Regions from separate parts of the Homo sapiens genome. Here region 2 is linked to region 1. The links come from fine-mapping of genetic effects on gene expression. Tissue or cell type: blood mononuclear cells. Region 1 holds a variant in brackets; the other region holds the start of a gene. All regions are shown on one strand. Distances are between the middles of the regions. Region 1 overlaps OSBPL8 (oxysterol binding protein like 8). Region 2 holds the start of OSBPL8 (oxysterol binding protein like 8).

Region 1 (16,252 bases):
TATTATGTAATCCTTGTAATAGCTCTGAAATAAATAGATGGTATTCTAACTGTTTTACAGATGGAATTATTCCTGTTTTTTTTTTTTAGACTCAGTGTTTAAGTAACATGTTCAGTCATGTTGCTGCTAAGGAGCTAAGTGAGAAGTTGAACCTTCGCCTATTTCACTCTATAGCTGTTAAGTTCTTTTAGTATAACATACTGCCACCCAAGCCATGTTGTTTATATTAGACCATCGGATCTTATTCTTAAAATTTGTTACATTTCTTAATCTGAAGTTTATAATAAATGTGCTTTTGCTTTATAGCATGCGTCATTCAGGAAAATCAGAAGTCAGGTATCAGGCATGTCTATGAGTTGTGCCAAAGTAGAAATATGACCAGTTTTAAAATTATTATTCTAGAACTTATGTGTTTCTCTAAGAGATGGTCAGTGTGTTCAAAGTTACCTTATTTCAATAATATCACTATTGTTCAACAAACACTTTTGGAATAATGCATTTGACATTTCTTTACTGTCTTTCACCTCATTCTTTTAACCTACATTCTGTGGTGACAAATTATATCTTTTGAGAATGGATTTGGTATTTGGTATTTGGAAAAGGTGGCAAGTCTTTCTGAACCAAGTCTCACACATAAAATTAAGGATCAAAATGAAGAAGGCCATTTTTAGTATAAATAAGCAGTGACCGCAGGGGTGAAACTGTTTCTTCTTTTGTCATTTATGAGGTAGCTAAGAAAGTGGTTAGAAAAGAGGAGTTCCAAAATTGTTTTGTGGGATGGCAACTTGAAACTAGTCTCTGAAAGTGACTACTCTGAATGGAGATGACCTTTATTTGTATGTTAATTCTGCTGTATTAAAGTTATATCCTGAGTGTTACACCTGTTCTGTTTCCCACGTGTTGGTGCTACTGTGATTTGGCACTGTGCTGTAGAGAAAAGTGTTGGCGAATGAATTATTCTTCGTATGTTAAAGAAGATCAAAATCTATAGAACAATATTTACATAGATTTGAATGGTAATTTAATTCTGGTTTATATGAATATTTATTATGTAATTTGTGGTTATCCCTAGCTAGGTTTAATTCTGGGCAGCTACCCTGTCAGAGTATACTCTTTGATGCAGACTTACATGTAAGTTAAACTTTTTGTGAATAATTATCTTAGCTTATTTAATTATTAGTTGTATTAATAGTTATGTAGTTTGTGGTTATCCATGGCTAAGTTTAATTCCAGGCAGCTACCCCATTGGAGTGCACTCTTTGATGCAGGCTTATATCTAAGTTAAATTTTTTTGCAAAAATTATCTTAGCATTATATGTGACTGAATGGCTTTTGGATATCAGTGCTATACTTGGTGTAGATAATAAACTTGTGTGGGGAGTGGTAGAAAATCGACAGTAAACTCCTAATTGCACAATTCACTATGTAATTACCATTGTGGGAAGTGCTGAGAGGAAGAAATATATATGTAATATGTATGATAACATATTTATATATCTTGTTGCAGAGGAGCTTGTGATAGGGAGATTTCATTTTCTATTTTGAAGGTATTATTTTTCTTGTTTTAAACTCCCAGATGGTGGACTTTAATGAAGTGTCCTCATTTGTAAAAATTAAAGGATACTGAAAAATGCCTCTAGGACCTTTTTAATAATACTTTCCCCTTTGAGGTTCCAGAATAATTTAATGTTACAAGACCATTAATTCAATAGATTTCAGTGCAAGTTACTATGTAAGCGGCTGAAAATTCAGTAGGAGCTAGGCAGATGTGCTTGCTGACCTCTTCGAGCTTTTGTATGGGAAGTGGTAGAAGATCGACAGTAAACTCCTAATTGCACAATTCACTATGTAATTACCATTGTGGGAAGTGCTGAGAGGAAGAAATATAGGGCAATATAAGAATATGCACACCTAGTCGGGGAGGGGAGCCAAAGAAGGTGATGATCTGAAGGAGAAAAGAATATTTCTCGCAGAACATCTTGTTTAAAGATTTTGGAAGATCAAGGAACTTGGGCTTTGCTAAGAACTGAAAGAGTTCACTGTGACTGGAGTGTTTTAAAAAATATGAGAAAGATAACATTGTGGTATAGGAGGTAGGGACTGGATCATGTGAGGCCTGAGACCATGTTAAGGATTTTGCTTTTTGTCTTCAAGTCTCTTGAAAACTATTAGGGAATTTTAAACAAAGGAGTGAAATGGTCAGGTTTAGATTGATCTCTCTGGATGCTAAGTGAGTAGTGGTTTGGAGGGTGATGAGGGTAGATGCTGGGAGACAGTTTAGAGTACCTGTGGTTCATCCAAGGGGAGAATCCTGTAGGCCAGTGGTTCTAAAAGTACATCACTTGGGAACTTAGTAGAAATGCAGATTATTGGACTCCACCCCAGACCTGTAGAATCAGACACTTTGGGGGTGGGTGTCAGAAATCTGTTTTGGAGCAAGCCCTCCAGATGATTGTGATGCATCCTAAAGTTTTTAAAACTCTGCTCTAGGTCATTAGATATATGGTTTTTGAATGCAAGAGAAAGTTCTAGACTGGTGATATGGACAGTACCTGCACTGAAGGTGGTAGTGGAGAGTGTGATGAAGAGAAGCATCTCTACTAGAATGAAACCCTGAGATAGAGGGAGAGCTAGTGAAAGAGTCAAAGGATTGGTTAAAGAGACAGAAGAACTAAAAGTACTGGAGAGTCTTTAAAGGGAGGGAGTGGTGAAGTAAGCATTATGCTTTATTTTTTTATGTTTATTTTTATTTTTTTGAGATGGAGTTTCGCTCTTGTTTCCCAGGCTGGGGTGCAATGGCATGATCTTGGCTCACCACAACCTCTGCCTTCTGGGTTCAAGCGATTCTCCTGCCTCAGCCTCCCGTGTAGCTGGGATTACAGGCATGTGCCACCACGCCTGGCTAATTTTGTATTTTTAGTAGAAACAGGGTTTCTCCAGGTTGGCCAGGTGGGTCTCGAACTCCCAACCTCAGGTGATCCTCCCGCCTTGGCCTCCCAAAGTGCTGGGATTGCAGGCGTGAGCCACTGCACCCGGCCTACTTTTATTTATTTTTATTTATTTTTATTTTTTGAGACAGAGTCTTGTCATGTTGCCCAGGCTGGAGTGCAGTGGCACGATCTCAGCTCACTGCAGCCTCCACCTCCCGGGTTCAAACAATTCTCCCTGCCTCAGCCTCTCGAATAGCTGGGATTACAGGCACCCACCACCAAGCCTGGCTAATTTTTGTATTTTTAGTAGAGACAGGGTTTCGCCATGTTGGCCAGGTTGGTCTTGAACTCCTGACCTCAGGTGATCTGCCCACCTTGGTATCCCAAAGTGCTGGGATTACAGGTGTGAGCCACCTCAACTGGCCTATGGCCTATTTTTAATGTGGTAAAAACTGTTGAAGCAGTATGCATTTACATCTAAATAATTTTTATTATTTAATTATTATTATTATTATTTTTTGAGACAGTCTTGCTCTGTGTCACCCAGGCTGGAGTGCAGTGGCACAATGTCGACTCACCGCAACCTCTGCCTCCTGGGTTCAAGCGATTCTTGTGCCTCAGCCTCTTGAGTAGCCTGGATTACAGACGTGCACCACCACACCTGACTAATTTTTGTGTTTTTAGTGGAGATGGGGTTCACAGTATTGGCCAGGCTGGTCTCAAACTGCTGGCCTTATGTGATCCACCTGCCTCGGCCTCCTAAAGTGCTGGGATTACAGACATGAGCCACCGCGCCTGACCACATCTAAATAATTTTTAAATTGCAAATACTTATTTATTACAAATACTTTCTATTGCTACTGTAGATTTACCATTATGGTGTAAGGAATTGTGCCATCTTCTTGCGTTATGTGTCTTAGAGAAGCTGGGGCACTAGGGATAGTAGCCGTTGGTATGAAAGATCAGGAGCTCTGCTCTTTTTGGTCTACCCTGAGATTATTTGCTAGCTGTGTTTTCTTTTTCTGTTACTACTATGTATCTAAAGGAAAAATGTTTTTAAATGCATTTTATAATTCAGACTTTTACTTTTCTTGATTGCTGTAACTTGTTAGAATAATTCTAATATGTTAAGGTTTTGCTCTTCTTAAGGGAAGACCACATTTGATGTGAAAAGTAATTTCAAGGTTAATCTCAATTACAAATAATATATTTGGAGTTGTGTGCATGTGTATGTGTGTGTGAGAGAGACTTAAGCCATTTTGGGATAATTTTCTGCTTGAAATGTGTTTGCTTGTCTGAAGTTTTTTTTTTTTTAAAGAAAAAATATGATTATTATATCAATGTGTGCTCAATATAAATTCCAGCAGCTATAAAAACTCATTAAGTTGGCTTCTGTTGCCACCACTTTATGTCTGAAATAGCCCACCTTGTTAGCAGTTTGGTGTTATTCTTCTAGATTTCTCTCTCTGTACACACACACACACACACACACACACACACACACACACACGACTATATAATTTTTTTAAAAACAGAACTCGTATTCTATTGTAATGTTGTTTTGCAGTTTTTCTACCAATCAATACATCTTAAATCTAAAAGTCAGATTCCTAATAATTCCTCCCATTGATTGCGTGTATTTTATTCTTACAACCTTAGACTTAGACTCAAGAGACCTTGGTTCTGGTCTCTTGCCCTGGGATCTTGGGCAAGTAGTCACTTAACCCTTTTGTGTTCATTTTGTGATCTCTAAAATTTATGGTTATTGAGAGGTTGACTTGAAGTGTCTTGATAGCTCTAGAATGCTGTTAAGGAATGCCAGGATTTCAAAGTGCAGATGTTTTCTAGAATTTTATATGAAAAGTAATGATCTCAATCTAGCTGTGAACACTTAAGGGGATAAGCTTTGCCAAGTTAAAAACACAATGATCGGGGGAGGAAGGATGTTAGAAACAAGATTCAAAAAGATGATTTCTTATCATTTACTGGTATACTCAGCAGGCATGCCTACTGCTTTTAAGATAACAATGACCTAAAAAAAGAAGCTTCCTTGAAGCCGACTGTTTTCTGACTGAAAATCCAGACTACTTTTTTAGGGGATGTGGGATGTGTATGGGTCTATGTTTGGTTGTACCCGTTGACTGCTCATGGGAAGTTAGACAAATGGCACTTACGGCCTGCTCAGCATTCTTTGAGGGATCGTGCTATCTTCTTGTATAAGTGTCTTAGAAAAGCCGGAGCACTAGGGATAGTAGCCATTGGTATGAGACCAGGAGCTGTGCTCTTCACTCTTCGGCTTTTTATCGTGAGATTATTTGCTAACTAAAGTTTTCATGAAAAATCTTAGGAGGGAAAAGCAGTCTTTGAAGAGTGTTTGGGTAAAGGTGTTCATTTTTTGAATTAACATTGCTACATTATTAATATTACGTTGATTGAAAGATGGCTTTTGTTTTCTTGCTTTCAGTGTCTTAAGTTGCTGATGTTATTTTGTTTTAGTTTTTCATTTGTATTTCCTTTTATTTTTATCTGTTTTTATCTTTGTCCATAGTCTTCTTAGTACATTGACATTTTGTACACTCTTATTCTTAAACTTTGGCATTTATTTTTCTAATATTTTCTTGTTACCTTTACATATGTTTAAATTTCTTTGCCCTTTTTGACTTTTTGCTTAAACACTTAAAAATTTTACTTATTTTTTCTGCATAGGGTTTTATTAAAACAGAGACATAAATACGCATAGAGAAGAATATTGAGAAAATGAATGACTCCAACAATGGCTTCCCTAGGCAGAGCTTTAATTTAAATTTACTTTTAAAAAAGTTGATATCTGTCTTTTTTTTTTCTCTGTGTGGCTGTTGGGTGGCATGGTTTTAAGGTAGGTGGTTCAAAATATACTTCCTACCCTAAGTAAGAGATTCAGGATACTTACCCTCCCCCTCCCCCCCCCCAGTTATTTAATAGCAGGCTCTTAGGACTTCTCATTCCTTTTTTATTCCTTTCAATTTTGAACTTCATCCTCGAAGTTCTAATCTTTTTTCTTTTTTTCTTTTTTTTTGAGATGGAGTCTTGGTGTGTCACCCAGGCTGGAGTGCAGTGTTGTGATCTTGGCTCACTGCAGCCTCTGCCTCCCAGGTTCAGCCTCCTGCCTCAGCCTCCCGAGTAGCTGGGACTACAGACATGTGCCACCACAGCCGGCTAATGTTTGTATTTTTAGTAGAGATGGGATTTCACCGTGTTGGCCAGGCTGGTCTCAAACTCCTGACCTCTAGTGATCTGCCTGCCTTGGCCTCCCAAAGTGCTGGGATTACAGGTGTGAGCCACTGCACTGGGTCTCAAAGTTCTGAATAATATAGATGTCCCATAGACAAATTTCTTACCTTTAAATAAGTTTGTTTACAATGATAAAGCCTTTGAACTATACTTAAAGGGCTTGCTCTCATGTTGCCTGTCATCCCTTTAATCATTCTTACAGGTGTTTGATTTAAAATATTTCATAATCCTCATTTAAAAATAATCTATAGCTGTGTCACATTCCTAAAATCTTCTTTCAACAAAAAAACAAAAGTTAGTGACAGGTCTTGACTAGTGTTTTATTGCTAATCTTATTATTAAGAATTGTTTTCCAATTTGTGTTTCTTAAAATAGGAATAAATATATACTTTTAGTGAATATATAGTTAGTGGTTTAAAAAGTATTTAATAGTGTAAAATACTATCATGAAAAGAAAAATTATTCATGATTCTGAGCAATATAACACATCAAATTTTTATGTGTTTGTAAATATTTTAGTGACTACATTGATGTATAATATATGGGTTCAAAAAGCAAAAGTCGTTAAGGTTATTCTTTAACCTCTACATTCTCTACTCTGAGTCAAGGTCTCTAATTGGTATGGCCTTGATGTAGATGGAGCAGATAAAACCTTGTTAGTTAGCTGACTGCCACTATATAACAGCCTTTCTCAATAAAGAGACTTAAATTAATTTAACCCTGTAACTTTGTTGTCCTCAGCAATCTCCATTGGTGCTACTGCGTTTAAAGGTCAGTATTACTGTCTTTATTTATTTTATTTTATTTATTTATTTTTTAGACATGGAGTCTTGCTCTGTTGCCCAGGCTGGAGTGCAGTGGCACGATCTCAGCTCACTGCAACCTCTGCTTCCTGGGATCAAGTGATTCTCATGCCTCAGCCTCCTGAGTAGCTGGGATTACAGGCACCCACCACCATGCCCAGCTAATTTTTCTATCTTTAGTGGAGACGGGGTTTTACCATGTTAACCAGGCTGGTCTTGAACTCCTGACCTTAAGTTATCCACCTGCCTCAGCCTCCCAAAGTGTTGGGATTACAGGTGTGAGCCACCGTGCCTGGCCTGTTGTCCTTTAATATTTTATTTCTCATTGTGAATCTCTCTCATCGTACATTTCTGTAGATTTCTCTCATTCAGAGAACTTAATTTGCTCAAGTTATTACTATAACTATTATCTTTGTTATCTCTTCTCAGTGATAAGACATTGAAAATAATACTTTTCTGTATATGAAACACTGTTCTATAAGCAAAATCTTAAGATTTAAGTTAGTTTGCACATCATAACAGTGGTAACCCTGCATTCTTTAATTAAACACGTTTAAATGTATAAATGTAAAAACAGTTTAAAGTTATAAATGCCCAGGAATCCTGATCTTGGTCATACTATGTCTGTTGAAATACAATTTTAGTGTCTTGATACCTTTTAAGTAGTATGCTATGAAATAATTCTTGTTGTAGCTGATTAGTTACTTGGGCAGATTTTCTTGTATCTTATTTTCCAAATACCAGTCATTTATAGAAATCAGACTTTGCAAAATGTAAAGGCTTTCATAGTTTCAGAAGCACAGGGACAGCTGCACAGCAAGTCCATATGTTGCTTAGCTATAATTATATTTTAATAATTATAATTTTTTTTTCTTTTGGGAAGAACTGTGGCTAACCTCCAAGAGACTGAAGCTGGTAATTGTAAGCATTCTCATTTTTTAAACACAAAGATAGAACTTTTTATTTTTCTCTGTTTTAAATGGTTGAATATATTTATCATGTATCATAGCATCCACTGGATGAAGTTACATTTCTGGGTCCTACTGTAACATTTAAATGAGTGTTCGCGTCAGATGGGAAGATTACTCGTTTTTTTTTTTTTTTTTTTGATACTCCTATATATGGATTTGCTGCCACAGGCATGCTAATTTTGCCATCTCATACATATGACTTGCTCCTTTCCGCCTCCGTTCTTCTGCACATTACCATTCCCTCCACCTGTAGGTCTCTCCTTCCTTTCCACCCATTTCCTTTTCTCTTTTCAAAAGTGGCATCTTAAGATAATTTCCTCTAGAAATTCTTTCAGGATTTATTCCATGTTACTTTTACTTATTTTCTTTGCTTCACCTTAACACTTACCATGGGTAGATACAAATTCAACTAATATGAATTGTGTTGCTGTAATTTACCAGCATACATAGTGTTAAGTAGTACAGTGATAAGATTAACTATCTCATCTATTTTTTACAGCTATCCTGTGAGTTATTCCCATTTTTACAGACAAAATTAATTATCTCAGTTACACTCTTGGTTTTAGTTGGGCTTGATTTTTTTTTTGGTATTTTTAGTATTTAATATTTAGTATTTTAGTATTTAGTATTTGGTATTTTTAGTTTCACCATGTTGGCCAGGCAGGTCTCTAACTTTTGACCTCAGGTGATCTGCCCGACTCGCCTTCCCAAAGCGCTAGGATTACAAGTGTGAGCCACCACACC[A/C]GGCCTAGTTGTGCTAGATTTTTTACATTTTTTCTGATTTTAAACATTGTTACTTAAACAGCATCATTTTGCCTTTCGCTACTTCTGTAGTCTTTCCTGCTTTCCACCTCACACCCCCCCAATATCACTTAAAAAAAATACTAAAAAAAACCCAAACTACTTTATTCAGGTATAATTTACACCTGAATAAAATGAAACCATTTTAAGTACATAGTTTGATTCATTTTGACAGATGTATACACCCATGTTACTGCTACCACAATAGATACAGATATAGAACTTTCCATCAGTCCCCAAAATTCTCTTGTGCCCTTTGAACTTAATCTTTCCCTTTCCTACTCTATGTCAGACAATGACTGATTCGGGTTCTGTTACTGTGGATTGCTTTTGTCTGTTCTAAGATTTCATATGAACGGAATCATAGAGTATGTACTCTTGTCTGGTTTATTTTGCCCTGCATATTTTTGAGATTATTCCTTTTTATTTTGGGATAGTATTCCATGGTATAGGAATACTATTACAGTATTGTAATGAATATCCAATTTGTTTATCCATTCACCTTTTGATAGACATTTGACTTGTTTGTAATTTTCGGTTATTGTAAATGAAGCTACTGTGAACATCCATGTACAAATTTTTGAGTGGACATGTTTCCATTTTTCTTTGGTAAATACTTAAGAGTAGCTGTACCATTTTGCATCTCACCAGCAATGTATGAGAGTTCCAGTTGCTCCCCTTCTCATCAACACTTACATTTTCAGTTAAAAAAATTTAATTAACATTCTAGTGGTTGTGTAATAGTATCTCATTGTGGTTTTTCATTTGCGTTTCGCTGATGACTGTGGTAGTAAGCATCTTTTCTTGGATTTATTAGCCATTTGTATTTTTTTTTGTAAATTGTTTAAATCTTTTATTCATTTAAAAAATTGTTTTCTTATTGATTTCTTATTGAAGGTTCTTTATATAGTCAGAATCTGAGTCATTTGTCTAATATATGTGTTGTGCATATTTTCTAACAGTTTATGTCTTGCCTTTTTTAAAAACTTTTTAAAGAGAAGTAATTTAATTTTTTGAAATTTAGCATATCTGTTTTCTTTCATGGTTTATATTTTTTGCATATCTTAAGAATTTTTTTGTCTACAAATTTTTATTTTCCCATTTTTATTCTAGAAGTTTTATAATGTTGGCTTTTGTATTTAGATTTGTGATTCATTTTGAGTTAATTTTTGTTTAGTATAAAAGCCAGGCTGTTTTGGTTGTTCTTGTTGTTTTTAATGAATATCCAGTTTTTACTGAAAGTATTTTCTTTTTCCCAGTGGGTTTCCTTGGCAGTTTTGTTGAAAATTAATTGACTCTGTTTATGGGTCCATTTCTAGACTCCTTATTCTATTCCATTGATATATGTGCGGTATGCTAGTACCACATTATTTTGAATGTTTTTGTAAGTTTTGAAGGTAGTGTAAATCTTCCAAACCAACATCATCTCGAAAATAGTAAAAAAACTTTGCATAGTTTACTCTCTTGACCTCATTGCTTGTGTGTATGTGTTGCTGATTTTTGTTTTTCATTTGTTTCTTTTTGTGAGTTTCTGCTTTCCAAGATGTTGCCACCACCAGGGACTTCCTGCTTGTTATTTTCCAATGCAGATATTGTATATATTAAGGAAGAAGCAAAGTACTTTCAGCTAGTCGGAAGGAATTAGACAGCAATTGGTATTCTTCTTTAGCCCGTTATTGGTAGTAAGCAACTCTAGATTCCAATAGTATATGATTTTTGACAAGGTCAGTAAATTGGGGTTGCAGCAACAAAAGTGTGTACCAGAAGCCCTGTGTTTAAATACCACGTCTGATACTTGACAGGAAATGAAATTGTAACACTTTTCAATTTAAAATTGTGTTTCTTTTCCTTCTTCGCCCATTCTTTAACAGAAACATTCCTATCCTTGCCTGAAGCAGTCTTTTGCAGGAACATTTGAGGTACTGTAATGGCAGTTGCCAAACTATAGTGTGTGTTAATTGGGAACATGTTGAATTGAAGAAAAATGTTAGATAAAAATTGCATTTAATTTTGTTTCTGACTACATATAAATGGACATTTAAAAAATCTCATTAATGAATACAGTTCCTGGTTTCAAAATAGCACTCAGGTATTTTCCCCTTCTTAAACCACTTTAGTTTACAGTAAAAATATTAGGAGAAAAGGTAAAATGTAGCATATTCAATTATAATATTGATTATATATGAATGTTTTATTTCACGTGTATTTTTGGTCTTTCCGATTAAATCGTGTGCTTTCCTAGATAGAGATTTTATCTTCTGTTTATTTTGCCTCATTTCTCACCTACTGGAAATGACTATAGATGTTGGTTATGCATTTGAATTAACTTGTTTTGATGAATAGTAAGTCCCAGGCTATAGTAGGAATATAGATGTATTTTTTTTCCTACTGAAATCACATTTGTCCTTTGAAAGACATTTCTAAGCTTTGCACTTGATAACAGCTTAGAATTTTGGAAAACCGGTAGGTAATGAGGTGGAGATGAGGTTAATAATCTCATTTCTGAGCGCTTGAGTTTCTCGCCTTTAAGTTGTTGATATAGACTGATCGTTGTTAAGTGCTTTTGGAGGGCTGGTCATCACTTGTTTGTGTCTGCTCCTGTGTTTGCCTCATAAAGACTTCAGTGGATTGCAAGATCAGTCAGACAAATGGAAACATCAGTCAGCTGCTCAAATAGATATTTTTAGAAATGTTTTTCTTCTTAGTCCTAATCATGAAGTTTACCGCAAATCCTTCATTTGATAGTGGGTAAGAGGAAATGAAGCAGGAGCTCCAGAGAAGGCACCTTGAGTAGTAGGATCCAAATGAAAATTGAAGAAGAGATTACATTCCTGAGTAAACATTTTTTTCTCCTTATGATTATTATCAAAACCTGGTCTTAAAAAAAACCTGGTTCTTGCATATGGTTATAGGATAGGTCTTATGTAATGGAGTTTAAAAACCTAGCAAGAAACACATAAATGAATACTATGCTATTGTATTTTTTTCTTATGATAGGATATATGGTGTTTTAAAATGTTCTATGTCTGACATTGATTTTACTTTTGTAAATTCATTTAAAAATATTTTGAAGTTAATTTTTATTTTATTTCCTTATTCAAAGGTAGACTATTTTGGTTACAAATGTGTTAAATAGTACCTATATCAATTTAGGGTTTTTCGGTTCAAGTAATAGAAAGGTTTGGGTAACTTAAATGATTTACTAGGATGATAAGCTCATTTTCTTCCAAGATGAAAAATGGAGTTTTAGAAATAGTAGACATTTGAACAGCTTTAGGGATCTAGAGAGCAGAAAGCAACAATCTTTGTGGAGCCCCCATTAGGATAGTTTTTTTTGTGATTGTTTTTCATTCACGTGATCACTCTGCTTGTGATTCACATTTATCAGAGAGAGAGAGACAGGCATGGACTGATTGGTCTGGCTCTTTTTTTTTTTGTCCACTCCTTTTGCTAGGAGAGCGTGGAGTACCAAGATTGCATATGTTGGAGGAGGGATGTTCCTTTCCCAAAAGAAGATCAAGGTGGATGTTAACAGAGGAAGGGGAAATGGGTCCGGACAGGTTAAAACAAAAATCCAATACTGCCGTAGTTTCTAGGTGGATATAACATTTTTAGAAATCTTATAATACAATATTAACTTCATTGGCTGAACCCAAGCCTTTCAGCCTTTATAGATTTGCCATGATCCTAATACATATAAGCATTCATTGTATTCATTATTAATTACTTCATAGATTCAGTGTGTGACGAAGGGAGATGATTTTTAACAAATAATAAAGTGAAATGATCTAGTTTTGCTATGTTGTTTGAGCAACATCAAATAGTTTTGCTTAAAATAGATAATTTATAGTGATTTTTTTTCACTATGGTATTTTCTTAAATATATTAAGTGCTTTTCATTTTCTGATACCACCTAGTTTAATTGGGGGTGAATATCAGAGAAATTAGAATGTTATTTCAGCTGAAGGAGTACAGTTTTTTTTTCTCTTCTTAGAGAATATAGTGCCTCAGATACAGTCCACAACAAAAATTTTTGTTTAGAAAAGAAAAATTTTAAGGAACAGATTTGTCAATTTCTGTGTATTTTTTGGTCAGTTTTTTTTTTTTTTTTTTTTTGAGAAGGAGTCTTGCTCTCTTGCCCAGGCTGGAGTGCAGTGGCGCGATCTCGGCTCACTGCAAGCTCCGCCTCCTGGGTTCACGCCATTCTCCTGCCTCAGCCGCCTGAGTAGCTGGGACTACAGGTGCCCACCACCATGCCTGGCTAATTTTTTGTATATTTAGTAGAGATGGGGTTTCACCGTGTTAGCCAGGATGGTCTCGATCTCCTGACCTCGTGATCTGCCTGCCTCGGCTTCCCAAAGTGCTGGGATTACAGGCGTGAGCCACCGCACCCGGCCTTTTGGTCAGTTTTTTTTAGTGCGCAGTACTTAATTACTATACCTTCAAAACTAAACAATTACTATACCTTCAAGACTACTGGATTTGATTTTAAGTTTTACTACATGGCCTGTTAATTCAGTTATCTCTCCCCCAACCCACACATGTTGAAGGCTTTCAATTGTTTCCTGTTTGTATATACACAGTACTCTTCACATATTGTCACAGTTTGATACATCTTATTAATATTTTCCTGTCTCCTCATTCTCCATTTCTTAAAATCCATGTGGGTTTGCCAAAAAGGTGCCTGTAGAAATGTACAAGCAATTGGTCTGAAGGGACTAGTTTTTATAACCTGAGTTGGACCTAACTTGAATGATGGAGGGAATACTTTATTACCATTGAATTACTGAAAGTCAAATTTAGATTGCTGATCTGCTTGGAAGCTAACTAAGAAAAGGAGAATGGTGTCACTTAAGTAACACAACTTGTTTTTCTTTGTGCTTGTTTTATGATGCTAAGTGAGTGATAAAAGGTGATACAATGACTTTAAAAAGCACTTCTGGTGGTTTTATAAGGCAATTTTCCCTGCTCTTGCTCACTCTTCTCTGTCCTGCCACCATGTGAAGAAGGTCCCTGCTTCCCCTTTGCCTTCTGCCATGATTGTAAGTTTCCTGAGGCCTTCTCAGCCATGTGGAACTGTGAGTCAGTTAAACCTCTTTTTATAAATCACCCAGTCTCGGGCAGTTGTTTATAGCAGTGTGAGAATGGACTAACACAATGGTACTATAACATTTAATAAAAATAATAGGGATGGCAATTTATTATGTCTATAGTTGGGTTCATTTATGTAGTTCATTGATGAGAACTTATGTTGTTTCTGGAAGTGGAAGATCTTCAGTCTAATACTCCTTTGTTAGTTATGTCTTCAGGGAAGTGAATTAAGCCTTCATGCCTTTATTGCTTTATTATACTATAAAGAGTCTGTTTGCTTGATGATAAAGTTAGCTCCTTATCTCTGCCAGTCCACAATTCTTAAGTGTCTAAGGAGCACCTACTGTGATAGGCACCTCCTGTGATAGGCACTCTTCTAGGTGTTGGGAATACCTCACTGAACAAAACAAACTGCTTATGGAGCGCTTCTATTTGGGGATATAATATACTATACTTACATGTGGGGATATAAACAAATGTGTGTGTCAGGTGTTAAGTGTCTTGGAAAAAAAAGTAGTTGGTAAAAAGATGAATAAAAGAATGGGAGGAGGCAAGTTGCTATTTTGCTATTTGTAGCTAGGATGGTCAGGGAAGATCTATTTGATAAAATGGCATTTAAACAAAGAAACCTGCAAGAAGTGAGAGAGTGAACCATAAGGAAGAGTGTTTTAGGCAAAGAACAGCAGATACAAAAACCTTGTGGTGGCTGGGTGTGGTGGCTCACAGCTGTAATCCTAGGACTTTGGATGGCTGAGGAGGGAGGATTGCTTGAGGCCAGGAGTTCAAAACCAGCCTTGGCAACATAGTGAGACTTTTCTACAAAAAAAAAAAAAAAAAAAAAGCCAGGCCCGGTGGCACGTGCCTATAGTTCTTACTACTTGGGAGGCTGAGTAAGGCTGAGGATCCCTTGTTTCCAATAGTTTGAGATTATAGTGAACTATGATCTTGCCACCACACTCCTGACTGGGCAACAGAATGAGACCCTGTGTCTAAAAAGAAAAGAAAAAAAATGTGGAAATCTGCTTGACATGTTAAAGGAATATCATATCATAGAGGCTTTTGTGGATGGTGCAGAATGAGCAATCAGCATGTTACTTCACTACTCTGAGCCTTAGTGTCTTCATTTTGAAAATGGGGCTATAGTGAAAAATTACTTGCTTTATAGGGTTTATGTGATGACTACATTATGTAATAATGCATTTAAAGCAACTAGTAATGTGTCTTCGAGTATAAAGTGGATCATGTTCCTGCCTTGCATAGGCTTTTCATTGGTTTCCTCTTTCACAGTGAATAAAATCCAGACTCTACTGTCTCTAGAGCCTTATCTCAGATAGTTCTCCTCATTGCTTACTATGCTTTAGCCATGCTGGCCTTTGAATAATGAGCCTATTCTTATCTCGAGTCTTCTTCCCCCACTAGCTTCTTCAGTTTTTCACAGAAAGGGTTTCAACGATGTATTCAGATACAGATCTACTGTTTTAATAGAAAGCCAAATGAACAGTGGCTTAAATAAGAATTTTTTTTTTTTTTTTTCTGTTTGGTAGTAGCAGGTAGGTAATCCAGAGCTGGCATGACACTGCTATTCTAAGGCAAGTACAAATGGTTAGTTGCTTCATGGTTTAGAGGCTCAAAAGGTTTCAGCTGGGTTTCGTAATCTGACATACCTTCTAAGCTTTGATTAGGTTTCTACAAATCCACTCACCAACTGATTTGTTTTTGGAAGGGGATAGTAACAAGTGCCCAAGAAGGGAAAAATAGCAAGGATTCCAGTTTTCTTAAATTTATTTTTCTGAAGTTTTAGCATTATCTTGTATTTTCCTTATAGTGTGCACCTTAATATCCTAGTTCAGTTTCTGATTGTTAGTTCATAATGCTTTAAATAATTGTTGTTCCTAAGCAGAAGCCCTTAGTATAAGAAACAGCTTAGAATCCTTAATGTTTCTCACATTTGAAATTCATAATGATATTTTAGCTTTGTCATAGTTAAAAAAAAACAAAACAAAACTAAGATTGAAATGAAGTAGTGACATAATAACTTCATACTGCTTTTTCAGAGGTAGACCACACTACCCCTGTTTTGGACTTTGGTATCCTTGGTTAATTCTGGCATAAGATTGTGTTATAGCTTGAGAGGAGGTTGGGAGAAGTGAAAAATTTGATGAAATTTTAAAGTTGCTATACTTTACTTATTTTTATTTTTATTTTTTTGAGACAGGGTCTCCCTCTGTTGTCCAGGCTGCAGTGTAGTGGCGCCATTATAGCTCACTGCAACCTCTGCCTTCTGGGCTCAAGTGATTGTCCCACCTCAGCCTTCCCTAGTAGCTGTCTGTAGCTATAGCTATAGCTAATACTATAGCTATATCGTTGTGTGGGTGTGTGTGTGTGT
Region 2 (16,252 bases), 26 kb before region 1:
AAGCAAAGACTTATTATTTACTTTTCCTTTCCAGTAGGAGTTATATTTCAGGGTAACCAAATAGTTCCAGGTAATAAAGGCAAGCTCTAGGTTACCAAAGAAAGTCAGAATGTAGAAGGAATGATATATTTATAATTGTTTTGCAATTCTTATTGAAATTACTGACTCATGTAAGGGTTTTCAATAAGTGTTAAAGCATAAGGTTTATGTTTGAAGGGGAACTGGACATCTGTGTAGTATCAAAGCAATGCCATACAAATTACTTACCATAGTTTACAATGGAGGGATGAGCCTGTCATCATATCATCAATTCAGCTGTCATTCTAAATATCAATAGTTGTACATTAATCAAATAGCATGAAAGATACTATATAAAAATATATAACCTGTAAGTATTCTAGCCCTAAATGTTTAACTTGAATTCGCCTGAAATCTTTATATCTATCTTACTTGTTTCAAAGAAAGATTTCAAATAAATATTTCAAAAAGCCATTTTTACACCCAAAATCATAGATAAGATGTTCTGGGTTGCTAAGCAACACTGTGAAGGCAAAAGAATAATAATAAGGACATGTGTGCATTACTGCATCATCCTTAGATGTAAGTTTTGTTTTTGTTTTTATTTTTAGAGCCAGTCCCCTCTTTCTCTGTTGCCCAGGCTTGAATGCAGTGGCACAATCATAGCTCATTGTAGCCTTGAACTCCCGGGCTCAAGTGATCCTCCTGCCACAATCTCCCAAGTAGGTGAAATTACAGGCATGTGCCACCACACATGGCTAATTGTTTTATTTTTTGTAGAGACAGGGTCTTGCTATGTTCCCCAGACTGATCTTGAACTCTCGACCTCAAGTGATCCTCCCACCTCAGGCTCTCAAATTGCTGGGATTGTAGACGGGAGACACAGTGCCTGGCTGATAAGTTTTATTTACTGTAATTTGTTATACTAAGAAATAAGTGTGGCAAGAGGGGACTGGCTGGGAATGCTAACTCCATGTATTGTAAGAGGAGGTCTGGCTGGAGATTTACTTGAATGGAAAACATAACTCTGAAATTTAGTGTTTCCTGGTTGTTAAGGAAGTGGCTTTCATTTTCACATCACATGAAAGATCCTGATACGTACATATTAGGGGTTGTGTAGATTATTACATAAAGCTGCATAATGGCCTGAAGTCATGCCTGCCTATGTATCTTCTATAAACCTCAGAATCAGGCCAGTTGCTACAAAAGCCTTGTTATCAATGAGAGGATGGTAGAGTGTATGGTCTGTGTGTAATTTTTCTCCAACTGGGTGTAGTGAAAATACAGTTAGTAATATTGTATAGAACATAATATTCCCAAAAGGTAGTGACCATAATAGTTTATATTTCTTGAGTTCTTTAATTCTTATAATATTATAAAAGAGTTTTTTTTTAAACTCCTGTTTTACAGATGATTTTACAGATGACAGCCTTGGTGGTAAATGACAAAGCTAGGGTTAGAACTGAGATCTGTCTGATTTTGGTGTTAGAACTCAAACACACTGCACTATACTACTTCAGTGAATCAAATTTGTATTAACTTTGTAATTTTGGTTAAAATGTATTTTGAGGTTTTCTGTGGACCCAATAGTAATACTAACTTATAACAGTTTCTGGGCTATCACTGCGAATTCAATGGAAATCAAAGTACTTAGTTCTTGTCAAATATTAGCACTGAAGAAATAAAACATTAACAGAATATTTCGATTTTTTTAAAACACAGTCACTGCTATTCTAGGCAAAGCCTAAATTTTTATTTGACATTTTTTTTGCTACTTTTTATGAATTTGACAGTTGTGCATTTGGAATCTGTTCAAATTCTATTTGTAGCTGAATCATGTGAATGCCAATGCCAACGAGATCAGTACATCTGCTTCTTAGCATCTCTAGAGTAATCTGTATTTGCAGAATGCTTTATATAAATTTGAACATGCTAACATGCTCAATCAGATTTATTTACCACCAGTCTTATGATGTTAGGCCTTCCATAGTGGTTTAATAGATGTTTGGAGCAAATACCAGGTAGGCAGCATGGGCTGCTTTTGATTTGAACACTTCTACTAAAAAATAATAATAGATATGATAAGGAGAAAATGATTACTGTATTTGGTTAAGGGTAGAAAATAACAAGTAGTAATACTTTCCCATGGAATTGACCGACAGGTATAAAAAAGAAAGTGACATACTCTGAAAGTCTTCTTTTTTTTTCTTTCCTAAAGCAGGGACCCAGTAACATTTTAGAATGTCTTTAGGAAATGAGACATTAAAAAAACAAAAACCATAATCATGTACCATTATCACAACTAAGACAATTAACAATAATTCCTTAATATCCTGTAATATGTAGTTGGTATTAAAATTTTCCTGATTGTCTCATTATATCTTTTTATAAGTTGTTTGAATTGGAATCTGATAAAGGTAAAGATCCACGTATTGCACTTGGTTGATATATCTGGTAAGTCTATTTTAAATCTCTAACAGTGCCCTCCCTTTTACTCTCTTGCCTTTGTTTGTTGCACGAAGGTCATTTTTCTCTGGAATTTTCCCCGCCCTCAGTTCAGATAATTGTATTCTTTTGGTGTACTACTTTAGTAACTTAAGGAAGGGGTGGGGGGCTTAGGACACAAAGAATGTCAGGTCCAAGTCTATTTGCTGACTGCAGAAGGAAGTGGGGAGTATAACAATGTGCGATCATGGGGTGGAGTTGGTGGCCATGTCTGGAAGTGAGCTGACATTCAAAGATAAAGTCTTCAATAGAGGTATATCAATCCCAGTTCCAGGAGGATATTACAGGGATTAAGGATTAAAGGATACAATTAAGGGAATGAGACTGGGAGTCTGGTCTCAGCTGTGCATGTAAGAATACCAGACAAAAGTAAGGCTCCCATAGAAATGGACTGGAAACAACTAGGGGAGAATATCAACAGGGCCTAGAACAGAGGAATGAACGTGACAGGAATGTAGTGGACAGACTTTATTGGAATATAGGGTAGGCGCCTTCTTTTTCCACCATATCACTTCTGGGTACCAGTGTTCTGTAGAGGTAAAAGAGGCACTAAATACCTGGGAGATCTGGCAAAAGACATCTAGGTAGTACCTGTGGTTGGGAGGATTGAGTAGATGGTTGCTACCTGATAATGCGGTAAGAATATACGGCACCTTCACTCCCAGAACAGTAACAATGAGTTTTGAAATACTGCTGGTTTATAGGGTGAGGACTCTTGTTAGCTTTACACTCATTTCAGGAAAGAGGTAGAACAACATACAGATACTTGATAATTTTTTTTTGTAAGTAAGTGTAGGACCCAGTACAAACTGATAACTTATTAAATTGAAAGAATTAATATACAACCTGGTTTATGAAAATTTAATTACTGTGACTTCTCAAGAGTTTCATATACTTGTATAAATACAGGCTGGACAAAGCTAACTGGAATAATCTTGTAATTAGCTAGCAATCTAGTAGCTAATAGGAATACTAGTAATGTATACACTTTTACATATATTAAGAGATATAAATAAAAGTCATTTGGACAGTCTTCTATAAAATTATAGATTTGGTTTTATCAAGAAAATATTCTAGGGTGTGGTGGTTCATGCCTGTAATCCCAGTGACTCAGGAGGCTGAGGAGGGAGATCACTTGAACCCAGGAGTTCGAGGCTGTAATGCACGCCACTGCACTTCAGCCTGGGTGACAGAGTGAGACCCTGATTCTAAAACAAAAACAAAGTAGTATATAAGTAAATATACTTTGAATGATCTCGTGGTTGAGGGGAAAAAAGAGAAAGGTTCTGGTTTAAAAAAAGTAAGGTATAATTCATTTGCATTATACTTACAGATTTGGAAATCTAAGGGATTATGTGTTCTAAGCTTCCCATGTTTAAATAGTCATGATAAACTTAAAAAAAAAACACTCTCCTAAAATTGAAATGAAAAACACATTTACAATTGGAAATTTGTAGTCTAAGTAGCTATCAGAAATGGGTTCTTATTATTATTAGAATTTATTTTGAATTTAGGATGTCCTCTGAATTGAGTTAAAACTCAGTAGTCAATCCTTATACCTGCGCACAAATTTCTAGCTATTTCCCAAGATGGTGTTAAAAGTCATAGCATGCACATAATTTTGAATAGGCAACGTGGGTGGAAAGGGTAGGCAGAGCATTTCAATAAGACTTAATTGTCTTTAACCTGTGAATACATAATTATATAATTTGTTATGATGAACTTTCATTTATAGACTTCTATGGAGGGAATCATTAATACTTCATAGTTAAGTGAAAATAGTATATAATTCTGCTTTTTATTACTCTAAATCATGATCTCCTAAATATATGCTACTTTCTTAGTCTAATTATGTAATACATCATCTTCACTGGTACATTATGTAAATTTGAAATAAGAATGTCATTGTGAAGAAAAACACTTAAAATGCTGTTATTTAAAAAGAGAATACCAATAATATATTAATACAATTTGCCTCTATGGATGAGAAAAGAAGAAATGTATCATGTTTTTGCTTTTAAAATAAAAGGTATGTATCAGATGGAGATAATAGTACTAGTTTGTAAAATACTTTGTCTAATGAGGTCTAATAGTAGGCATAAAATGCAAATTTGGTTGGGTCTATTTCTAATGTTAGATATGTGATTTTTTTTTCTTTAAAAAAACTTATTAAAATAATTTTAACAATACTTACTGTTTGTTTGCATTGTCAATTGTATTTAGATTTAGGCAAATATCTACCACTCTTAATGCTCTTCGTTTATTATCAACTCTCAGACCTTCCATTTGAGTTGATTTTCTTCTTCTTCTTCTTTTTTTTTTTTTTGAGACAGGATCTCTCTCTATTACCCAGGCTGGAGTATAATGGTGTGATCATGTCTCACTGCAGCCTTGATCTCCCGGGCTCAAGCAGTCCTCCTACCTCAGCCTCCCGGGTCAGGACCACAGGCACACATTACCATGCCCAGCTAACTTTTAAATTTTTTGTAGAGATAAAATCTCAATATGTTGTCCAGGCTGGTCTCAAACTCCTGTGATCCTCCTGCCTCAGCCTCCCAAAGTGCTGTGATTTACAGGCGTGAGCCACTGTGCCTGGCCTGGGATCATTTTCTTTTTGTCTGAAAAAAGAAATTTCTTTAGACTTTCCTTTAGCGAGACTCTATTAGCGGCAAATTCTGCTTTTGCTTGCCGGAAAATTCCTTTATTTTGGCCTCATTCTTGAAATAATTTTTTCACTGGGTACTGAATTCTAGGCTGACAGTCATTTTCTTTTAGTCCACTGAAGATATTATTCCACTGTCTTCTGTTTTTCACTGGTTCTGATGAAAAGTCATTTACCTGACACTTTGAAGATTAACTATATTTTTTCTTTGTTGCTTTTAAGGTTTTCTTTTTTGTTTTTGGTGTTCTACAGTTTCACTGTGATATATCTCAGCGTGGTTTTATTATTCTTTAACTTGCTTGGGATTTGGGAGGCTTCTTAAGTCTGTGAGTTGGAGTCTTTCATCAGTTCTGGAAAGTTCACAACCATTATCTTGTCAAATACTGCCTCTGGCCCACTGGCTCTTTCCTTTTCATCTGAAGTCATAATTAGATTTTAGAGCTGTTTACAATGTCCTCCATGTCACTTAAAGTCTCTTTTATATTTTTAATTTATGTTTTCTTTTTTTATTGCATTTAACTTCATCTTTATCTTCCATTTCATTGGCTTGTATTTCTGCTGTGTCAAATGAACTACTAAATTTGTCCACTGAGTTTTTATTCTAATCATTTATGTTTTTCAACTCTTTTAGTTCTATTTGCTTTTTTCAAAATCTTCATTCCTACTTTAGTTTTTTGTTCTCTGCACATATTTTCAAACTTGTCTTTTATTCCTTTACTCATATTTAATATTGTTATTTACAGTCTGTGACCCCTTTTTTTTTTTTTTTTGAGGTGGAGTCTCACTGTCGCCCAGGCCGGAGTGCAGTGGCGCGATCTTGGCTCACTGCAACCTTCACCTCCCGGGTTCAAGCGATTCTCCTGCCTCAGCCTTCCCAGTAGCTGGGATTACAGGCGAAATTTTTGTATTTTTAGTAGAGATGGGGGTTTAACCATGTTGGCTAGGCTGGGCTCAAACACCTGACCTCAAGTGATCTGCCTGCCTTGACCTTCCAAAGTGCTGGGATTACAGGCATGAGCCACCACACCTGGCCCAGTCCGTGACTTGTAAATCCAGGATCTGAAGTCTTTTAAAATTTGTTTGTGCTGTCTTAAGTCTGTACTGTTTCTCACGAATGGTGTCTTATTCTGTGCTTGTTATTTTTTTTTAAATGTGAGCTGCTCATTTTCCTTAAAATTTTATTTATAGTCATTCTTTATGGCTTAAGATGAAGGTGGGTTCCTCCAGAGAGGATTGGTATTTGCTTCTGCCAGGTTTCTGAGAGCATTATCAGTCAAAAATTCATAATTACGCCTAGGTACAGTGGCTCATGCCTATAATCCCAGCACTTTGGGAGGCGGAGGTGGGCGGATTACCCGAGGTCAGGAGTTCGAGACCAGCCTAGCCAACATGGTGAAACCCCTGTCTCTACTAAAAATAAAAAAATTAGCTGGGCGTGGTGGCACGTGCCTGTAGTCCCAGCTACTCGGGAGGGTGAGGCAGGAGAATTGCTTGAACCTGGGAGGCGGAGGTTGCAGTGAGCTGAGATCATGCCACTGCACTCCAGCCAGGGCGACAGAGAATCCCTGTCTAAAAAAAAAAAAAAAAAAAAATCTTAATTATTAGCCTGAAGTTTTTGGGGACCACCCAGCTAGTATGAATTCAAGCTACGTTTTTGTGTGAGAATTGGATTGCAGTTCCAAATTCTCAGATACGATTTTGCTTTTCCCCTGTCCACCAGGTGCCAAGGTTTAAGACGGCTAATTTTCTTTGTAGATTCTGGGGGATGGGTGCCTATGCTAGTAAGCAGCAAGTTTATTTCTAGTATATCCTTACATCAAATTAATAATCCTTGGAATTGCAGTTGTTTGTGTGTGTGTGTGTGTGTGTGTGTGTGTGTGTGTGTGTATAATGCAGGTAATGGGTTTTGTGTCTTTCTTACAAGGTCACGAAAACCAATGCTCCTAGTAACTGGGTTTAGCACATGCCCTTGAGATAAAAGTTGGCTGACTCTGCTAAACTCTAGGTTCCTGCCTTCATTTAGTTTTTTAACTTAATAATTTCTTACCCTATTGTCAGTTAATCAATATATTTAATAAGATTTAAAAAATGTTTTTTCCAGGGATTTTGTTTTCAGTGTGACAAGTGTGAACTAGTCCTTGATATTTCTAGAAACAGAATCCTATATTCTCTTTATACTTTACTATCCAAATTTTCCTCAAGGGATATTTAAGACAAATAATACTAAACAGAAATATTTAAAATCAGTATGTAAATATCTTACATGCAAACATTTTGCATGCAAATTTACAGATTTTATAAAGACTGCTTCTTAACATAAATTTTAGGTGGATATTTACCAAATAGCTGGTTGACTAGTTTGTAGATGTCTGTTATTTATTTTATTAAATAGACAAATATTATTGTTCCACAGTACATTTAGCCTTTGACTCATGAGTTTGTTGGCTCAAATTCACTTTAGATGATTTGCAAGATTATGCTACGCAACAAACAATCTCAAAAATATTTGTGATTCACAACAACAAATATTTTTGTTTTACTCTTGTTTCACATCAGTAGCCGTATGTCAGGAGCTGCAAGTCAGTTGCTTCAGTTCTGTACAGGGTGAGAGTTTCAGGTCTGCTCCATCTATTTTCTTATTCTGAGATCTTATCTGGAACATACCTTTCTCATGGCAGGTGGCACAAGAGTAAGAGATTGACCTGAATTTTGCAATCAAATTTAAAGCCTCTGCTTTGATTTAGCATTTAACATCTGCTCACAAAGCACTGGCTAAAGCAAATCACATGACCAACAAGAATACAAGTCTTCAAAGCTGTGTTGAATACCTTATTTATGGCTGAGGTTGCTCTTAATCTAAATTCTCTTCCAGAAAATGAGGATTTTAGTCTAGAATCCTGATTAGTAATTGTCAGCAACATAATTGTCTAATGGGATAAGCCAAATGGAAAAAAGCAAACAACCTCAAGCAACATCTCTGTCATTCTAGGTCAGGGTTGAAATATACTGTGGGAAAGGCTGTCAAGCCTGTCAGTGCTTAAACTAATTTGGAAAGAACTTCCCATTCTTAGAAATGTATAATTAATAAAGCAGTAGGCAAAAGAGATGAATTCTCATTGGAGTTAAAATCGGATCGTTATAATAAAAAAGCTTTATTTCAAAATGTCATTCTTAAAATCATTGTAAGAGTAGCAAACTTGCAGGGCATCTCTGGGAGTTACTGAATATTTTTCAGTTACAGTGCAGGATCACATATTAGTTTCTGTTTATGTTGTCATTACATTGAAAATGCTAGATTGAATTATCATTCCTGGAATCACAATATCAGATTTGAAAGGATCTGAAAAAATGATTTTTCAACTGTAGTGGATTAATATATTTTTGTGTTGCAATCAGTTGTTAAGTATGTCAAAATCATTAGTTATTCATGACAAGTAACTATTATACTAGTGATAATCAAAGTAGAGAAGATTGTGAAAGATATACTTACATTTGTTTTGCAATATCTTCACTTTCAATTACTTGCATTAGGACTTTCTTTTTTTTGAGTGGAGCTGAAAGAAGTTAAACGTAGGCTGTCAGTAATTTGCATAATCCTGAGTATACCGTGTCTGTTTGTTTCCAATGTGATTGCCATCCACCGGGAAAAAAAAAAGGTGGTTTAGTATCATTTCTCAAACAGCATGTGGTCCTACTTGATTGGAACTTGAAATGCAGGGAGTAATTTATCTAGTCATACATCTCATTAGCTAAGTCTGTAACCTAGGCTTCCTTGCTTCCAGTACATTGCTTTTTCCAACAAATGATCAAATTTTCAAAAGCCAATGTATGAAATTGGGGCTGAGGCAGAAGAGAATTAGGCAAGGCAATTTGCCACCTTTTTCTAATCTTTAGTCTCAGTTTCCAAAGTAAAATAAAAGTACCAGAAAAACGGGGTCCAGATGGTGTATTTTGCATATTATCTATGCTCTAGGAACATTCTTTTCCAAATCTATTTGATTGCAACTCACAGTAAGAAATTGTTTAAATCACAACATAGGACATACTCTCACCTTCCACCATATTTGAAACAAAAAGTTTCAGGAAGCAATTTTTGCCCTTACTAGACATTATGCACTCTGGTATTTTATATTGTATTACATCCTAGCCTATTTCATATAAAAATGAAATTGATTTTTGAGTTGCAGGTTGAAAAACATGCCTCTAGAAAACAGGAGACAAGTTAATCTGTTAACAAACTCCAAAGTTACTAGCTTTGCTGAAATAATGTCACAGAATAATAAACTTCCTTCACATTTATTTGTACTACAGTCTCTCAGGCTTCAGAACAGAACCTGGTAGAATCTTTTCCTCTTTGGAACACCAGTTCATGACAATATCTCAGAGATTCTAAGACTCGTTGTTTCCCAGTTCATGACAATATCTCAGAGATTCTAAGACTCGTTGTTTCCCAGTTCATGACAATATCTCAGAGATTCTAAGACTCGTTGTTTCTGACATGTTTACATCTCTGAATTCAAGATGTGTCTCAGGCCGGGCGCGGTGGCTCATGCCTGTAATCCCAGCATTTTGGGAGGTCGAGGCGGGTGAATCATTTGAGGTCACGAGTTCAACACCAGCCTTGCCAAAATGGTGAAACCTCCTCTCTACTAAAAATACAAAAATTAGCTGGGCATGGTGGCGCATGCCTGTAATCTCAGCTCCTTGGGAGGCTAAGGGAGGAGAATCGCTTGAACCGGGAGGCGGAAATTGCAGTGGGCCGAGATTGCGCCTCTGCACTCCAGTCTGGGAGACAGAGTGAGACCCTGTCTCAAAAAAAAAAGGAAAAAGATGTGGCTTAAAGGTGCCTTACATATCAGCGGTATGGCATAGTTTCATTGGCAGCCTTTGTTTTCTTTCTTGGGTAACATAAAACAATGTAAGTCTATGATTTTTTTAGAGCTGCTATGAAATATATTAATAATAATTATATAGGCCAAACTCTATTGCTTATTCATTTCAATGTATCCAGCTTATCAGAATGCCTTCTGATTTCTTGTTAAGAAAATGTAATGAGATGAGAATAGCTTAAGAAAAAAATCCTTAGTTCTGGGCTACAAGGGAAAATGAGTTATGACCCCAATTTAATTATTACAGAAAGCTTTCTCATTTGCCTTCATTGTGATCAGGGTTTGAGTATGATCTTTATTCTACCTCCCTTACTTCTGTATAGTTAGGATTTCATTAGGCGGCTAGAGGGTTCTTCGGATCATGGCTAAAAAAGAAAGCAAAAGGTTAAGTCCTAGAGTTAAGGAATTAGGAAAAAAAAATTAAGGCATTAGAAAAAAAATCAAGAATTAGGCTTTATTTTAAAAAATGGAACAAACTGTCAAATTCCTGCGTACCCGTTTAAACTGTCACCAACCTAACACACTGTAAAACTTAATGACTGTAAAACTGGCAGCAGGATCCTGAACATAACAAGGAACAAAAATAAGTTTGCTAGGCTGTTTTCATCCCAGCATGATTGAAATACACCGTTTCCTCAAAAAAAAAAAAACCTCTAATGAGGAAAGCAGTAAATTAAATGCCACGGTTAATGTGCCACTAGAAATAGGAACAAGTAGTTTAGTTACCGAATGCTTCTTAGGCCATACACTCTACACCACGATGCGTTCTTTTTTCTGTTTCGCTAAAGCTTTCACCAAGCCTAAGGCTGGAGAGGGGTCCTAACTGAGCCCTGACCAGACCAGGGAGCCCTACTGTGCAATCTCCTCAGGTTAGGAAGGGCCCAGTATGACCGGCCCAGAAGGCCTGGCCGATCAACAGGCGCTGGGCCGACGGTGGTGGGCTCGCTTCCTGAGGCTGCCCTTGGGCATGCGGAAGGGGACTGGCTGGCGATAACACCCTGGCGAAGCAAGGTGGACAGTGACTCCCGCCCGGTTCGAGCCCGCCTAGCAGGGGAAGCAACTCCACCACCGCCTCCGCGCACCGTCACGTGACGGGAAGAGGGCGTGGCCGAAGCCCGTGATCCGGGGGGCGGGCGGGGCAGGGGGAGGGCACTAGAATGTGAAGGATCTTCGCGGTTCTGGGTGCCCAGAAAGGCGGCGACGCGGCGGATGACAACATTAGGCCGCGACGCGCTCCTGGCCAGGCGGCGGCTGTAGTGTTAGCTTTGGACGCCGCAGTAGCCGCTGCCGGTAGCAAGCCGACTGAGGGAAGGTGGGGGTCCGCCCGGGCTGGTGGACCTCGGGGCCGAAAGTTCCCGCCCCGCTCGGGGGCTGAGCCGGCAGTGCCTCCGCGGCCGCTGGGCAGCGCCCTTCGTCCAGGCTCGCGCCCCAGCTGCCGCCGACGACAGCGGCCGAGAGAAGTTGGGGTCTGACTAGACGCTTACGGGGCCTCGGACCCCGGCGCCGCGGCGACCTCGGAGGAACCGGCTCCTTGCGTCCCGCCTCCCTGGGAGCTCCGCACGGGTGAGTGTTGCTCCATTCCTGAGGTTGGGGTGCTGGGTTCGCACCCCTCAGGGCGACTGCGCACCCTTATTGCCACGTTCTGAGCTCGGGCTGTCGGGGACTCCTGGCCACCCCCGCCGAGGAGTTCTTTGGCTCCTTTGTTCCCTTTTGGAGTAGGGGGATTGGAAAGGCTGGCAGGGTGGAGTGTTTAGGGGCCCACAGTAGGTGCATCTGCAGCCTTACAAAAGCCGCGGCAGGGGAACGGGGGTGGGAGGCTGTTGGAGCATTTCGACCGCCCCGGGTGTCTGTCCCTCCTGAAGTTTGATAGGTTGATGGCATGGGCCTCGTTGGGAGCCCCCGCGCCCAGGAGAGCTGGCGCTTTGTCGCTCGGTGCGGTTAAGGCGAGGCTCCTTCTTTCCTGTGACAGCCCCAGAGAAGGCTGTGCCGCGCACCGCAGACCGCACCCGCCTTTGCAGAGCCAAGCGACACGGTGTTGTTCCTCTAAGCCTCAGTTCTCCCGGCCTTCTTGTAACGTAGGAGGAAAGCCAAGCCTTTGCTGTGCTTTTAAATTTAATGTTTGTTTCTAAGCCCTCTCTCAAGAGTGGAATCAGGTTCCAAGGAGCTTCACAGGCAGCATGCTTTAGGTTCATTGAACCACCCACTCAAGACTGGCTGAGGCGAAGCAACAGTATATGCAGATTTTCCATTCACAAAAGTCATTTAACACTCTTCTTTATGAGACACATCTGCGTTGCAGAACGTAACCTAATTTCATTTTATTTAAATGCTTTCTGAAATAATAGGTAACTTGGACAACGTAAACAGATGGGTAAACTTTAACTGATAATGTAAGTATATATGCATTAAATAAAAAATTTAATGATGTTTTTGCCTTTCTGCTGCTAGAAGACTTAAATGACGTCTGAGTAGTAATACAGTGTCTCCTGCATGGCAGTTAAGTTTTTCCCAAAATTAGTGCTGCTTTTGAAATAATCCTTTAAAACAGTTTTTGCCTCCCTTCGTATCTAGAGAGAGCAAGAATTGTGGAGAATCGTGGGTGAATTGATTGTTAAATTTTGCTAATTTCCTAGAGTTTCATCTAAACTTGATTTTGCTGAGAGGCTATGATCAGTTTCTATGCTTGCTAGAACCTGTTTTGCAGTGAAATTATTAAGATCATGCTAGTTTTATAAAATAGGTTGGAATAGGAAAAGTAAGGCCATGCAATTTAAAACTGTTCTCTATAAAAGTACAACTAATTTCAAATGTTTGTTACTTTTATTTTTTTTTAATATTAACCGTGTATGGAGTGACTATAATATACCTGCTCAAAGGGCTGAGAAAGGAAATAGATGAAACTTAAGCTACCTTTTGGGTCTTTAATTATGGACATCAAGTTATTGCGGTCACATTCCATGTCAACCGTTTGAACAGCAATACCGTGTACACAGGTGCTTAGAAATGCCTGTTTAATTAAAAATGGCCATGGTTTATTTCTCTTTGATTGAATCATAATAGTTATTGAATCTCTGATCTGTGGAAAGATGCTACTGTATTTTCCTTAGAATGTTACTGCATTTTAAAGACAGTCAAATATGTTTTTTATAACACATTCAGGGTACTTATACATTTGTCAATATTCAGTTCCTTGGTTCATTTAAAAATTGGAAGCCTTAGAAAACACTTTGGGGATAAATTTACAATTGTGTATAATGAATTTATGTTTTAGTTTGCTTTAAGAAAAATGATGAAATTATGAATTTGTAAAATATGCATTACAAAAGGATTTTTTTTTTTTTTTTTTTTAAGACTGTCTCACTCTGTATCCCAGGCTGGAGTGCAGTGGTGCAACTTGGCTCACTGCAGCTTCTGCCACCTGGGTTCAAGAGATTCTTATGCTTCAGCCTCCTGAGTAGCTGGGATTACAGGTGCGTGCCACCATGCCAGGCTAATTTTTGTATTTTTATTAGAGATGGGGTTTCACCATGTTGGCCAGGCTGGTCTCCAACTCCTGGCCTCAAGATCCGCCCGCCTCAGCCTCCCAAAGTGCTGGGATTACAGTCATGAGCCACTGTGTCTGGCGGATCTTTTGTTTAAAAGTATGAATTGCAGAATTTTAACCAGTGTTAGTACATTTCAACTTGGCTTTGGTTTGTAAATAATCCTTCAAAAGTAGATTACTTGAATTAAGGCATTAAAGACAAAGAATTGATACAGTACATAGATCTAGTTTTCTAATATTAATTTGGAAAACTTTTATCCTAATATTATCCTAATAACAATGCCTGAAATGTCATGTTGTAATGTTTGTATTATATTGAAAGTTAAAAACATTTATAGCAATGTTCTTGGAGCATCAGGCAATTCAAAGAGGACATAGGTCCTGCCTTAATCTTACAAATAATGACCTGCAAATAAGACAGAAACACAACTTGAATAAAAAAGCCTTTGAGAGGCCAGGCCCGGTGGCTCACGCCTGTAATGCTAGCACTTTGGGAGGCTGAGGTGGGCAGATCATGAGGTCAGAAGTTCAAGACCCGCCTGGCCAACATGGTGAAACCCCGTCTCTACTAAAAATACAAAAAAATTAGCTGGGCGTGGCAGTGTGTGCCTGTAATCCCAGCTACTTGGGAGGCTGAGGCAGGAGAATCGCATGAACCCAGGAGACAGAGATTGCAACGAGCCAAGATCATGCCATTGCACTCCAGCCTGGGCGATAGAGCAAGACTCAGTCTCAAAAAACACCAAAAAAACAAAAAGCCTCTGAGAAATATACAATTTTTAGTGAAGGTGGCTGGGTACAAGGAGATTAGTAGAAGTGCTTGACTGGAGCAGTTGTGGCCAAAGTATAGCTTCCTTGTGATGAGACACAGGAAGAGATGTCTAGACTCATGTTGTGTGCATATTTCATGGCAGTATGTGGGAAACCCCTGAGAGATTTTAGATCTTTCTTCCCACCTTGGTCCCCATCCCTCACATATCCTCACAAAGTCATAAAATTCTCATGTGGAAGGCGTGATAGAAGGAATTTTTCTTCCTGAAAAGTGTTATCAAGCTTGCAAGGGAGAGAGCTATTTTCGGAGACCTTATAGGGAAGAAATCCTAGTCCTAGAGCATCATATTCTTATACCCTGTTATTTTTACCTTTGTCGAAGATCCAGATAATGTAAATTCTCCATGATAGCAAGGACCTTGTCTGTTTTGCTCACCATTGAATCTCCAAATGTTCAATAGTTAATGAATGAAAAAAGTCTACTTCCAGATATATGACTGGAGAACAAAAGGAGTATCTGATAATGTAGTCCAAACTAAATGCAAGCAGCGAAATGATAAAGGAAGGATGTTAGCTTGGGAGAAGGGGAACAGGTCATTTAATCTGGGAAACTTTCTTGGAGGAGGTGATTCTTGAGTTAGGTTTTGGTGTGGGCTGTGTGTCTGAAGATAAGCAGTGTCTAAGGGGGTAGACAACGTGCAGCAAAGCATTTAAGTCAGACTGAATAAATTATGTCAGATAAAGCACAGTAAGTCTTTTTTTGTAACATTATGAAGAATTTTTATTCTCCCATCTCTATTTTCACCTCTCCCTAAATAAAAAGATTAACTTGCTTTGCAACAGCAGAGATTGACAGTACTTGAGTTTTGGAAGTACGATAAGGGTCAGAAAATTTGAATTGGTGTTCTGACTGAATCTTATACAAGCGTCGTTTCCATCGGCCAATCACTTGGTCTTAGTTTTCTCATTTGTAAAATCAGGATAATAATCCATGATCGTTGGGAGAACAAAGTTATATAATGCATGTGAAAGTGCATACCTCAATATGAATGTGCCTACCTCAATGTGTCACACATAGGAGGACTTCAGCAAATACAAAATTATTAAAACGTTTGTCTGCAGATCTTTAAAACATATTTTGATTCGTTTATCATGAACTCTAATATTTGCTTGACTCATCTAGATGACTCATGGCATTATGTTTAAATTGATCAGAATCAAAATTCTAGATAATTTTCTTTCAGTCAGTTTAATGTTTTCTGGTAGAAATGAGGCCTAATTGTATTACTGCTTAATGTTACAGACCACAAGGAGTGCTAGAAGCCTCAAATTTTTGAAGCTCAAAGTAAGGGATATGTGTAGCTGAAAATCTGAGCCTTTAAGCTTTTTTTCTCTACGTAATTTGTTTTTGAAGAAATTGTCTTTGCCTGTAATGTCATTTATCTATTCATTGTTGTGATGAAATAAGGGGTTTTCTGGTTGTTAAGAAAAAATTTACCAAAAATATTTTCTGTTTTTAGTGATGTGACTATAAGCCATGAAGATCTCTACCATCTGTGTTTTATTATAAAATTCAGTATTTCTTGAGCAAACAAACAGACATCTGCATTATTTCTTATCTAAGCTTTTTGTGCCAGTAGCTGTTCATTTATGAATCTCAGAATTTCATTATACTTTGTGAACTCTTTGTAGTGTTTTTGATCCATGGAGCAGTCTGTCCTTTGTATAATATTTGGAAGAGAATTTTATTATAAAAAGACTAAGAAGAGTCTTGAGCCTTTTTATTATACAAAGACTAAGAAGAGTCATCAAATGATAAGCCAGTTACCTACTAATTTCCATATTCAAAAAGGACTGAAAAAA

The links.
Region 2: OSBPL8 starts here. The variant in region 1 is fine-mapped to the expression of OSBPL8 in blood mononuclear cells (TOPMed, PIP above 0.99). The same link has a PIP of 0.9 or more in monocytes and whole blood.

What each region holds. Positions count from the first base shown.
Region 1 is chr12:76,528,676-76,544,927 of GRCh38, reverse strand. All of the region lies in intron 1 of OSBPL8 (oxysterol binding protein like 8), which reads left to right. Among named protein-coding and RNA genes, the nearest start is that of OSBPL8, 23 kb to the left of the region's middle. RefSeq lists an enhancer at 13,204-13,932. The variant A/C (reference allele first, on the strand shown) is at 8,719.
Region 2 is chr12:76,554,782-76,571,033 of GRCh38, reverse strand. OSBPL8 (oxysterol binding protein like 8) reads left to right here and starts at 11,263. Exons shown (of 24, transcript NM_020841.5): 1 at 11,263-11,637. It overlaps LOC105369850 (a long non-coding RNA gene), which reads right to left and starts at 11,132. Exons shown (of 4, transcript NR_188081.1): 1 at 10,801-11,132; 2 at 8,676-8,739; 3 at 268-323. RefSeq lists a silencer at 11,433-11,622 and an enhancer at 12,033-12,342.